Linked DNA regions of Homo sapiens. The protein of the gene in region 1 interacts with the protein of each later gene in a pairwise test. Each region holds a gene or a part of one and is shown on either strand. Other genes may lie near its edges.

The links.
Region 2: the proteins of TNKS2 (region 1) and FBLN2 interact in a two-hybrid assay, tested with the Homo sapiens proteins (one study listed by IntAct).
Region 3: the proteins of TNKS2 (region 1) and SH3BP5 interact in a two-hybrid assay, tested with the Homo sapiens proteins (one large-scale study listed by IntAct).

What each region holds. Positions count from the first base shown.
Region 1 is NC_000010.11:91,857,373-91,861,021, forward strand, and holds part of TNKS2 (poly [ADP-ribose] polymerase tankyrase-2), read left to right. Parts: intron 1-52; coding exon 53-158; intron 159-2,089; coding exon 2,090-2,276; intron 2,277-3,649. UniProt on the Homo sapiens protein: Poly-ADP-ribosyltransferase involved in various processes such as Wnt signaling pathway, telomere length and vesicle trafficking.
Region 2 is NC_000003.12:13,566,008-13,569,656, reverse strand, and holds part of FBLN2 (fibulin-2 isoform a precursor), read right to left. Parts: intron 918-3,649; exon of another isoform or gene 577-917; intron 1-576. UniProt on the Homo sapiens protein: Its binding to fibronectin and some other ligands is calcium dependent. May act as an adapter that mediates the interaction between FBN1 and ELN.
Region 3 is NC_000003.12:15,322,441-15,326,089, forward strand, and holds part of SH3BP5 (SH3 domain-binding protein 5), read right to left. Parts: intron 1-3,649. UniProt on the Homo sapiens protein: Functions as a guanine nucleotide exchange factor (GEF) with specificity for RAB11A and RAB25. Inhibits the auto- and transphosphorylation activity of BTK. Plays a negative regulatory role in BTK-related cytoplasmic signaling in B-cells.

The DNA.
Region 1 (3,649 bases):
AAGTCAGTAAGTAATTCCTAAAGATTTGATTTTTCTGGTTTATTTTTTATAGATTCAGAAGGTTTGTAACAAGAAACTATGGGAAAGATACACTCACCGGAGAAAAGAAGTTTCTGAAGAAAACCACAACCATGCCAATGAACGAATGCTATTTCATGGTAAGATTCCTCCCCACCAACTCTACCACTGTCTTCCACATTAGGATAGTTTTTTTGTTCAGATATGAAATAATAATAAGCCTGTATATTCTTTATGTCAGTATTTTAAGATAAACCTACTATTTCTGTAACTTTCACATTTATATTTTCAACTTCTTTTGAATTTGTGTATTTTATAATGGATTGTTTTTAAATAAGATTACCACAATAAAAATAGAAATGAGAGTGTTGACTATCTTTTCCTTTTTTCTTTAAATAGTAAATTTTGCTTATGGTCACTCTAGGAAATTTTGTGTTTTCCATTTAACTAGTTGATTGAATTAAAAATAAGACCTGGGAATCACCTCAGAAGAAGGTGTACATCCTATTCTGATTTTGATTCTAAGTATCAAACCCACACAATTTGAAAAGAGCCATTGTTATTGAACCTGTAGAGGTTTCTGATGACTGTAGAATTGAAACCATAGAATTGAATTGAAAGCACAATTACTTATTCTTCTTGGAATTTTCTACTTTTTTTGTATTATAAGCTGGCAGGTGTTGATTAGTCTTTCAAATTTTAGCAAAGTTAAACATATTAATGTAGTATTTATGAGGGCTTCAAGTACATTACCCATAGTAGTTCCAGTCTGTTTCTTCATTTGTCCTTGATTGCAGAAAAATTTTAGAGACCTGTAAAGTTCTCTAAAACACAGTAAATTTCATAATACCCTGGGAGAATGGCTGTAACAGAATGGATTCATGTGCAGAATCTAAACATGTTGCACTCCTTATTCCAAAACCCTAAATAATTATCATGATAATCTCTTGACACAGAGCATATTTATTTATCTGTTAATTGATGGTTATAATATGGTTTTTCTAATTTGTAATATAAATAATTTTGGTTTTCCCAAGTTAATTCAAAAAATGATTCTATTCATCTGTATTTCTGTAAAGTAGAATTCAGTATATTTTCCTGTCTGTCTGTGGAAAGGGAATGTGATCTTGATAAATGAATTAGCTGTGGTTTTTTGACTTTTTCCATCCCCCACTCTACTCCACTCCCAAGGAAAGAGGAGAGAGAAGTCAATGTGCAGGGGGTGAGGGAAAGCACCACATTTGCAGATAGAATCTTGTATCGTAATTAATGAAAGGCAGAAGTGGAAGGATAGAAGAGAAGAGGTATAAGAAAGAGAATAAGAATGTGAAAGTTGGGCCGGGTGCGGTGGCTCACGCCTGTAATCCCAACACTTTGGGAGGCCAAGGTGAGTGGATCACCTGAGGTCAGGAGTTTGAGACCAGCCTGACCAATATGTTGAAACCCTGTCTCTACTAAAAATACAAAAGTTAGCCAGGCATGGTGGTGTGCACCTATAGTCCCAGCTACTCAGGAGGCTGAGACAGGAGAATTGCTTGAACCCGGGAGGCAGAGGTTGCAGTGAGCCAAGATCATGCCACTGCACTCCAGCCTGGGCCACAGAGCGAGACTACATCTCAAAAAAATTTAAAAAAAAAAAGAATGTGAAAGTCTACTTGGGCCACTTGGTATCTTCAAAAAAGCACACAGGCATAGGCATCATTCTAAGACCTAATTGCATTTAGCTTTGCTATCTAAAGTGAATTATGAGCCTCTTGGTTTTAGATTTTTATGGATTTGCAGTCTGGCATTTGGTAACTCTTACACTGATATTTCAAGTACTCTGTTTTTCTAGTTCAATCTGTGTCCTTATTTTAGCACATAAACCAGCACTCTGTTAGAAACATTAGTTGATGTTAGCAGTTCTTTATTCTAAAATAGCTGGCTGACAGTTAACTTGTTACCCTTTTTCGTTTTGGCTTTATTATGGTTGGGCTATATATTTAAGAATTCAGTTTCTAAGAAACTAGTTTTTTACTTTTTATTCTAAGATAAATTTTAAATTATTGTTACCCATCTATATGTGTTTCAGGGTCTCCTTTTGTGAATGCAATTATCCACAAAGGCTTTGATGAAAGGCATGCGTACATAGGTGGTATGTTTGGAGCTGGCATTTATTTTGCTGAAAACTCTTCCAAAAGCAATCAATATGTATATGGAATTGGAGGAGGTACTGGGTGTCCAGTTCACAAAGACAGATCTTGTTACATTTGCCACAGGTAAGAGATCACTTGTTCTCATTTATTTTGGTGGTAATCAGATAAGAACTAGTTGCATTTTTGAGGGCAAAGCATTATGTTGGACAGTCTTAGGAATGCAAGCTAGGCATGTTTTAGATTGCTTTTGGCCCTCTCACCAATTGTAATAATAGCTAATATTTATTAAATGATCCGTATGGGCCAATTATAATTTAAGCACTTGACCTGTTTGGCTAATTTAATCATTAGAATATCTGGTGCCTTAAAGCATACTGAGTAGAAAGTAACATTAGGCATGAAAGAGGCTTTATTGTAGCCCTTGAGTATTGTAGGACTCTGTGGACTCTAAAAATCTAGTATTCAAATGCTAAAATGGCATTATTTGTCAAATCTAATTATTTGATGGCAGTGCCTGAGCCTCTCTTCCACTGTGATACGATCCTAATCCTCAATTTGCAATATTACTATAAGAACTTGAAATTAAAACATTGATCCTTTTTGAAAGGAAATAATAATCAAATAACTACTTTGCACTTTTTTTTTCCACTTTTAATTACCTGTTCTAACTCACTTGTTAAAAATCATTTAAGTAACTTGTCCCTAACTTATAAAATCCTTATAGGCAAAAAGTAATGCCACTTGAAAAATCCAGTAAGATTAATTCCTGAGATTTATTCGACAGTTAGGGCACTGCTTATTGAATATACAGAGCAGTAGTTTATCAAGCATTAGCATGCATTAGAGTCACCTAGATGGCTTGTTTAAATCACAGATTCTTAGGCTCCACCTTCTCAGTTGCTGATTTAGTAGATCTGGGATGAGACTCTAGAATTTGAGTTTCTACCAAGTTCCCAGATGTGACACTGTATTTCTGACCACTGATCTAGAAAAAAACCCCTAGAGCAGTACTTTGCACTTTGGCAGCACATTGGAATCACCCAGGGAATATTAAAAAACTATTAATGCCTGTGTCCCACCCTCACAGAATCTCTTTTAATTGGTCTGGGGCATGATCTGGATATTAGAATTTTTAAAAGCTTCCCAGTTGATTTCAAAGGGCTTCCGAGCTGAAGAATTGCAGTCATGGAGGGAAACAGGTTCTTTCTTTGTGTTTGTTTTGTTCTTACTGTTACCCCTCTAAATTTAGGCCTGCATAGGTAGTACACAGTAGGCCCTCCTATGTATGACGTCCCACTCACTTCTATTTTAGATCATAAATTGGAGTGGTTAGGAGGCATGTAATTTCCTGTAAATTGAACACTGCTGTTTTTATTTGTCATATATGGTCTGAAGGCTAAATAGTTCTGATTATTAGTAATAAGCAGCATTCTAATACCTCCCTCTTCTTTGGAAGATAGAACCATCAACTGGTCTACAGAAATCTCCTGTTATCT
Region 2 (3,649 bases), on another chromosome or scaffold:
GGGACTGCAGGCTTAGCCCCAGGGGACGCTCCTGTCCCCCTCCCCAGTAGCACTGGCAAATGCATCCTGATGCCTTGCTGTCCCTAACACCCCACCAACTCCCCCAGTCATGTCCATTCTCCCCGCAATCTGTCTCCACTCCCTCCCCACGGTCTCTACCCCTTCCTTCCATCTCTAGGCCCTGTCCCCACTCCAGTCTCAGCTCTGATCTCCACTGGAACAGCCCCGCCACCTCCCTGCCCACCACTCCTCCCCTTTCCCAGGGAACCCAGTCTGGCCTGAGAGCAGCTGGCCCCGACATGCCACGGCCCCACAGCCCGCCCCAGTTTCCCATGGCCAGAAAGGAAAGGTCTGGATTCCCAGCTGAGCCTGGCACTCAAGGCCCTGCAGGAGCCATCCCAACCCGACCCTCCCACAGGCCCTTAGGCCTGAACTCCCCCAAGGGCTCTTCTCCCCTCTCATCTTGCACAAGCCACTCAAATGCCACCTTCTCACCAGTCCTCATGCCTCCTCCCTCCTCCACCCTGGCCCAAGTCCCCAGTGCCTGTAGCCCCACTTGTGACCCAGTGGCCGTACCTGACTCTTATAGACAGCGTGCTCCCCAAAGTCACAGGCAAGAGCTCCTTCTCCGACTCCCAGCCTAAAGCGCAGCCCCATAGGGCAGTGACAGAGGGACAGCAGGACTCGTTACCACAGCAGTGGTCCCCAAGCCTGCCCCATTTCTAAAGGAACGCCTCCTCTGCACCCAGCCCCTCTAGGAACCAGGGGTTTATCAGCCAGCAAGACAGGTTCCCAGCGTCCTCACAGCACTGACACCCTCAGGGGTGGAGGGGCAGATAATAAACCCAAGAGCAAATCTGTAGAGAACTGAACGCCAGGCAGGCATGAGCCCCATGATGAAATAAATGAAGGGAATCAAGGAGACGGAAGGAGGACGTGGCAGTGTCAGGGGAGCCCGTGTCAGTCCGGCGGAAGAGGAGGGCTTCTCTGAGGAGGGCGTCAGGCAGGGAGTGGCAGGGCCAAGGGGCTGAGGCCGGACCAGCAGCAGAAAGGTGAAGGACAGAGAGGGCCCCCAGGGCTGAGCCACATCAGCACACGGGTGGTAACTGCAGAGCAACGGGCTTCCAGCCTGCTGTGAGGGCCTCTGGGCGTGCCTGTAAGCGCTGGAGCCTGGGACTCTCCAGTGCAAGGGACCCACCCAGCTGCCCACTGCGCTGAGACACGGGAGCCAGCAGGGAGCAGGTGAGAGAGCCCAGGGCAGTGAGCGAAGAGAGGCAGGAGATGGTGGCACAGGGGATCTATTTTGAAGGTAGGACCCACAGGATTTGCTGATGGATAGGATGCAGCGGACAGAAGACAGAAGTCCAGGAGCGCCTGGAAGGGGGAGTTGTGTGACCGAGGCAGGGAAGGCTGCGGTGGAGGGCCATGGACGGGCAGGGAGATGGAAGCCCATGCCCAGACCAGGCTCAGGGCCGGCGGAGTGCTAGGGAGCCTCTGGGGCCTCGAGGGCTGACGCCCCTGCCCTCACACTGAGGTGCCACCTCAGGAAGCTGGAGGACTCCGTAAAGCCACTGACATTAGGAATGGGCCCCTGGGAGAATCAGGGCCTTTACTCCCAGTCAGCAAAAGCAAGGACCCTCCAGACTGCAAGGGAGAGGCCCTCAGGTCCACTCTCAACAGTTCTTTCTGTTTGTTTTTAGAGACAGGGTCTCACTCTGTTGTCCAGGCTAGAGCACAGTTGTGTGATCATAGCTCATCGCAGCCTCAACCTCCCGAGCTCAAGCGATCTTCCCACCTCAGCCTTCTGAGTAGGTGGAACTACAGGCACACACCACTACACCCAGCTAATTTTTTTTAACAAGGGTCTCACTGTGTTGCCCAGATTGGTCTTGAACTCTTGACCTCAAGCGACCCTCCTGCCTCAGCCTCCTACAGTGCTGGGATTACAGGCATGAGCCACCGTGCCAGCTGACAGTGTCTTTTAAGAAAGGAAATCTTTGGCCAGGCGAGGTGGCTCACGCCTGTAATCCCAGCACTTTGGGAGGCCAAGACAGGCGGATCACTTGAGGTCAGGAGTTCGAGACCAGCCTGGCCAACGTGGTGAAACCCTGTCTCTACCAGAAATACAAAAATTAGCCAGGCATGATGGCGTGTGCCTGTAATCCCAGCAACTCAGGAGGATGAGGCAGGAGAACTGCTTGAACCCCGGAGGCGGAGGTTGGAGTGAGCCGAGATCGTGCCACTGCACTCCATCCTGGGGAACAGAGGGAGACCCCGTCTCAAAACAAAAGGAAATCTTTGGTGAACTGAGACCCAAGCTCCCTGCCCTCCTGCCTTCAGGTGCATCACACACCTAGGCATGAACGTTGTGTCCTGAGAGGACAGTACCCCAGCCACAGGACACAGGGCTGTCCTAGAACTTCTTCCAGAAGAACTTCCTTCCCAGCCCACCCTGCCCCACCACCCGGTCCACCAAGTCCATCCCCTTGCTCTGCTCACCGGCACAGCCCCCAGGGTGACCTGGCCCCTTGGCCCCCCAGGCCCCCAGCATCACATTCTGTCCATGCTTAAGCAATCCCAAACCTCAGGCTTGCCCATCTCCCCACTCCAGGCCCAGGGCAATGATAAAGAACATCAGGCCCAAGCCTGACTCTGCATTTTCCACATTTGCTGCGCAACCCCAGGCACGGCCCTGGCCCTCTCTGAGCCCTGGTTCTGCATCCACCCAGTGAACGTGTTCCACCATACCTCAGGTCATAGTCGGGGGCCCACCAGCATTATCTGGCCCATAAGTGCTTTCGTTTGGCTCACACAGTGGGTTTCTCATTTTAAATTGGTTACCAGCATGCATAAATTGAAAACGTTCACATAAAAATTCAGGTTTCCAACTCCTGTTTCAAGCCACAGAGCTCTGGCCACCCTGAGATGTCACATGGGGTGTGAGCTCCCAGGTTCCCCAAGTCGTCTGGGCCCCCCCAAATGCATGCAGCTCAGAGTATCCTGGTGCTGTCTGATGGTTGTATGTCCACTCAGGAGGGGAAAGGACCATCTGGGATGTGTCGAGAGGGAGTGGCCCACGTGGTGAGGGGGCCCAGGCCCCTTGGGGTGGCTCACCTGGGAGAATAGCAGACCTCACTGTCCTCACATCTCCACAGCTGCTCCCAATGGGGCGTGTATGTGTGGGGCGGGAGGTGGGGGCATGGAGGAGATGGCAGATGTCAGCTCCAAGTGGAGAACACTCCCTCCAGGGCAGGGACTGACCAGGCTGCTGGGAAGGAGTGAGCTCCCTATCTATCGCCAGAGATAAGCAAGCAGGGCTGGGGACACTCGTACAAGAGAGAAGCAGGAGGGCACAGTCTCTACACTGCAGGGTCACAGAATCAAACATGCCCCTCCTGGGAGCTCCAGCTGAGTTTTCCCACAACCCCGGCTTCTGCAGACAGCTCCCACCCCTCAGCAACCTGAAAAAAGAAGCCCCTGGAGATGGGGTGGGGAAGGAGGCCTGACCTCCCTGCGGGGGGACAGTCCCAGCAGTCAGAGCCTGGCCAGCAAACAAAGCCCCTGGGACTGGCTGCGGTGGCCAGCCAGGCAGTCACACTGCACCAAGCCAGCCCTCCCGGGTGGGGACGCAAGAAACAACAAGATACAA
Region 3 (3,649 bases), on another chromosome or scaffold:
GAGCCAACATGTGCCTAAGTGGACAGGTTCTGGGGAGGGAAAGGAGAACACAAGGTTGTGTTTTACCAGTGTCACAACTGTCCTCACGGTCAGTCTGTCCAAGAACAGCCTGGGAGGCCGGGTGTGGCGGCTCATGCCTGTAATCCCAACACTTTGGGAAGCCGAGGCAGGAGGACTGCTTGAGCCCAGGAGTTTGAGACCAGCCTGGGCAACAAGGAGAGACCCCATCTCTACAAAAACAAAAATTAGCCAGGCGTGGTGGCGCACTCCTGTAGTCCCAGCTACTTGGGAGACTGAGGTGGGAGGATCACTTGAGCCCAGGAGTTCGAGGCTCCAGGGAGCTATGATTGTGCCACTGCACCCTACCCTGGGCAACAGAGACCAACACTGTCTCAGGAAAAAACAAAAACAAAGCGGGAGGCCGGGCGCAGTAGCTCACGCCTGTAATACTAGCACTTTGGGAGGCTGCAGTAGGCGAATCATTTGAGGTCAGGAGTTGACCAGCCTGACCAACATGGCAAAACCCGGTCTCTACCAAAAACACAAAAATTAGCCGGGTGTGGTGGCACATGCCTGTAATCCCAGCTACTCGGGAGGCTAAGGCACGAAAATCGCTTGAACCTGGGAGGCAGTGGTTGCAGTGGCAGAGATCACATCATTGCACTCCGGTTTTTGAGACCCTGTCTCAAATAAATAAATAAATAAATAAATAAATAAATAAATAAAGCAGGGCTCACTCAGGGAAACTAATTTTCACATTACAGCAGGCAGGCCACAGCGCAACGCCCTGCTGATCCAGTGACTACAAAGTCCATCCCGCTGTAATCCTGGCCTGTATGAGCCCTCCCTCTGACCCCCTTCCCAGTGCCAATCTGACAAAGAAAGGTCATGGCAGGACCTGGGGGAAGAGAACAACAGAGCCACTGCCAGGCCCCATGGCCAGTTTGGCCCCAGTGGACATCTCATTGGAACCTTCTCTGTTTGCAGCGCCCAGCGGGTCTCAGCCCTCCCTGCCAGCCAAGCACACAGGGGGCCCTCTTGTCCACTCAGGCTGGGCAGCTCTCAAAGCACTCTCTCACACAGCATCCCTTACCATCCTCCAGGCTACCCAGGGATGTAGGCAAGAATTGCAGCCCCCAGATTCAAAGACAAAGAGACTGAGGCTTCCATGTGCCAAGTATCCCTAGAAGTCAGCAGACCTCTGATTTCAGCCTGTATCACCTGATGTCAAGACAGCTGTCTTCCCTCCACCTGCCCTTCCCCACGGCTTTGGGTTTTGGTTATTTCACAGCAAAAACTGAGACACAATCCCATTTTAAAGAAGAAGAAATTGAGGCACAGAAATTACATAATCTGCCAGAGGTCCCACAGCTATGAAGAGGGAGCTGGGATTCAATGCCAGGCGGTCTGGCTCCAGAGGCCAAGCTTTGCCGGCTGTCCTATAGCTAAGTCACTCTACAAGTTTCAAATGTTTCTCCACTCACCTACTTCCCCAAAGGGAAATAAGCAGTATGGGGGGACCACTGAAGCCCAAGGCCTTCAGTACCACCATTCTGATGGCCAAACTTCAAGTCAGAGCTATGGGGGCAGTGCAGCAGCCCTGGCTCAGGCTACCCTGAAGAGACGCAAAGACCACACATGTGTTTTTTCTTTATAATCAACCAATCACCAAAGGTCCTGTTAACACTCCACCTCTCCCCACCCCAACCTTCCTCAACCTGCAGACAATGTCTGTACCGTCAGCTCTCTTCCTCCTCCACTTTAAGGCTGATGTTATCTCTTCAGACTATCTGGGGTCTGCAGGCCTCAACTCTGATGCCCCCTATTTCAACAAAGCTTTGGCCTCTCAAAGGGCCCTGAGTGACTCTCCTAGAATCCCCCTCACCCCACTACAATTGCTTGCTTGAATCCAGGAGACGGCAAGCTCCATGAGGCAGGGACGTGCCTGATTATTTGTTGACCACCCTGGTCCCCAGTGCCCCACACAGGATTTGCTGCAGGAAGGCCTCCAGGCCAATGTTTACTTCAACCAGATCTCACCTGTGTACAAGAAGGTCAGGGGTGTAGGGGCTCTGCCAGCTTAGACCGGGCAGCCTGCCACCAGGCCTGGAATCTGGTGCAGCTTCAAGAAACAGTTACTCCTCCCTCCCCCGGTCTATCTATGCTTCAAACATTCCCTAGCAGTTTCTTCGAAGCACAACTGAGTCTTACAGGACCTAGTCCCTAGTGCATTCCACCCACACGTTTTAATGGAGAAAGTGCTGGGACGTATCACTGTCCTTTGATAGAGGAATTTTTCTCCTGATTTGTGCTAATAATTCATGAGGGAGGGGCCGGGCAGCTTCCAGTTTACTCTCACCTCCAAGTTTCTAAGCTCAAAACAGAGTTTTTGTTTGTACCATTGCTCCTTGGGTCCAAAAAAAAAAAAAAAAAGTTTTAAGAGAAAACATTTGCTGGTTTTCAGAGGGAGGAAAGGCAGAGATAATGAGTGCTGGCTTAAGCATGTTTGAGGAACACAGATACTCAGAAACAAAGATTTTTCAAACCACCCTGCAAGTATAAGCAGAAACTATTCCCACCTGACCTGAGCAATGAGGAAAAGGACGGACCCCTTCACAGCCCTGGAACAGCCCACTTTCAGAGCAAGCACGGGAAATGATGAAAACATTACAAATTGTGCTTAAAACCACATAAACATGGGCATAAAATATTACAAATCTTTATTCTGATTAGACTTAGAAATTCTCAGTGTGGCTTCTGTTTTAACAAACATTTGAAAAGAGACAGACCTATAAAATAGGCATTTAAAAATTACATCAGCATATTGAGTTTTACTATCTCACCTAGCAGGGCTGTCGCACACCTGAATGACCCATTTATCTCTGACTCACTGCCTCCTCTTCCATCCATTACTCGCCCATGCCTGGCACAAGGCCCCCTTGCTGGCCCTCAGCTAAGCCAGGCTTAGCCCTGATGCGCCCTCCAGCTGGAATGTTCTTCCCCCACATGGCCTGAGGCTTGCTCACTCTCTCCAGACAATACTGCATTCCTCTCCCTCCCCTTGCCTCCAAACACCCACCAGCTGAGTCCCCTTCCAGCTCTTTGCCTCCTTTGTATACATCAGATAACCTACCATGTGTATTTTAACTTTTTATTGCGTTTTCCACCCCCTCTGCAATGTAAGCCTCAGAAAAGCAGGGACTTCTGTCCATTCTCTTCACTGCTCTGTCCCCATCACCGAAAATTGCCCCCATCACGTAGTAGGTGCTCAATAAATACTTAGTGAATTAAAAAGCTGGTCAGGCGCAGTGGCTCACACCTGTAATCCCAGCATTTTGTGAGGCCAAGGGAGGCAGATCGCTCTCAGCTCCAGAGTTTGAAACCGGCCTGGCCAACATTGCAAAACCCATCTTTCCTAAAAATACAAAAATTAGCCAGCGTGGTGGTGTGAGCCTTTGGTCCTGGCTACTTGGGAGGCTGAAGCTGGAGAATCGCTTGAACCCGGGAGGCTGAGGCTGCAGTGAGCCGAGATTGTGACACTGCACTCCAGCCTGAGTGACAGAGCAAGACCCTGTCTCAATAAATAAATAAAGCTGACTGATCAATGGATCTGTGGGAAAATGCTTATTTTCCTAACTTAAAACATCAG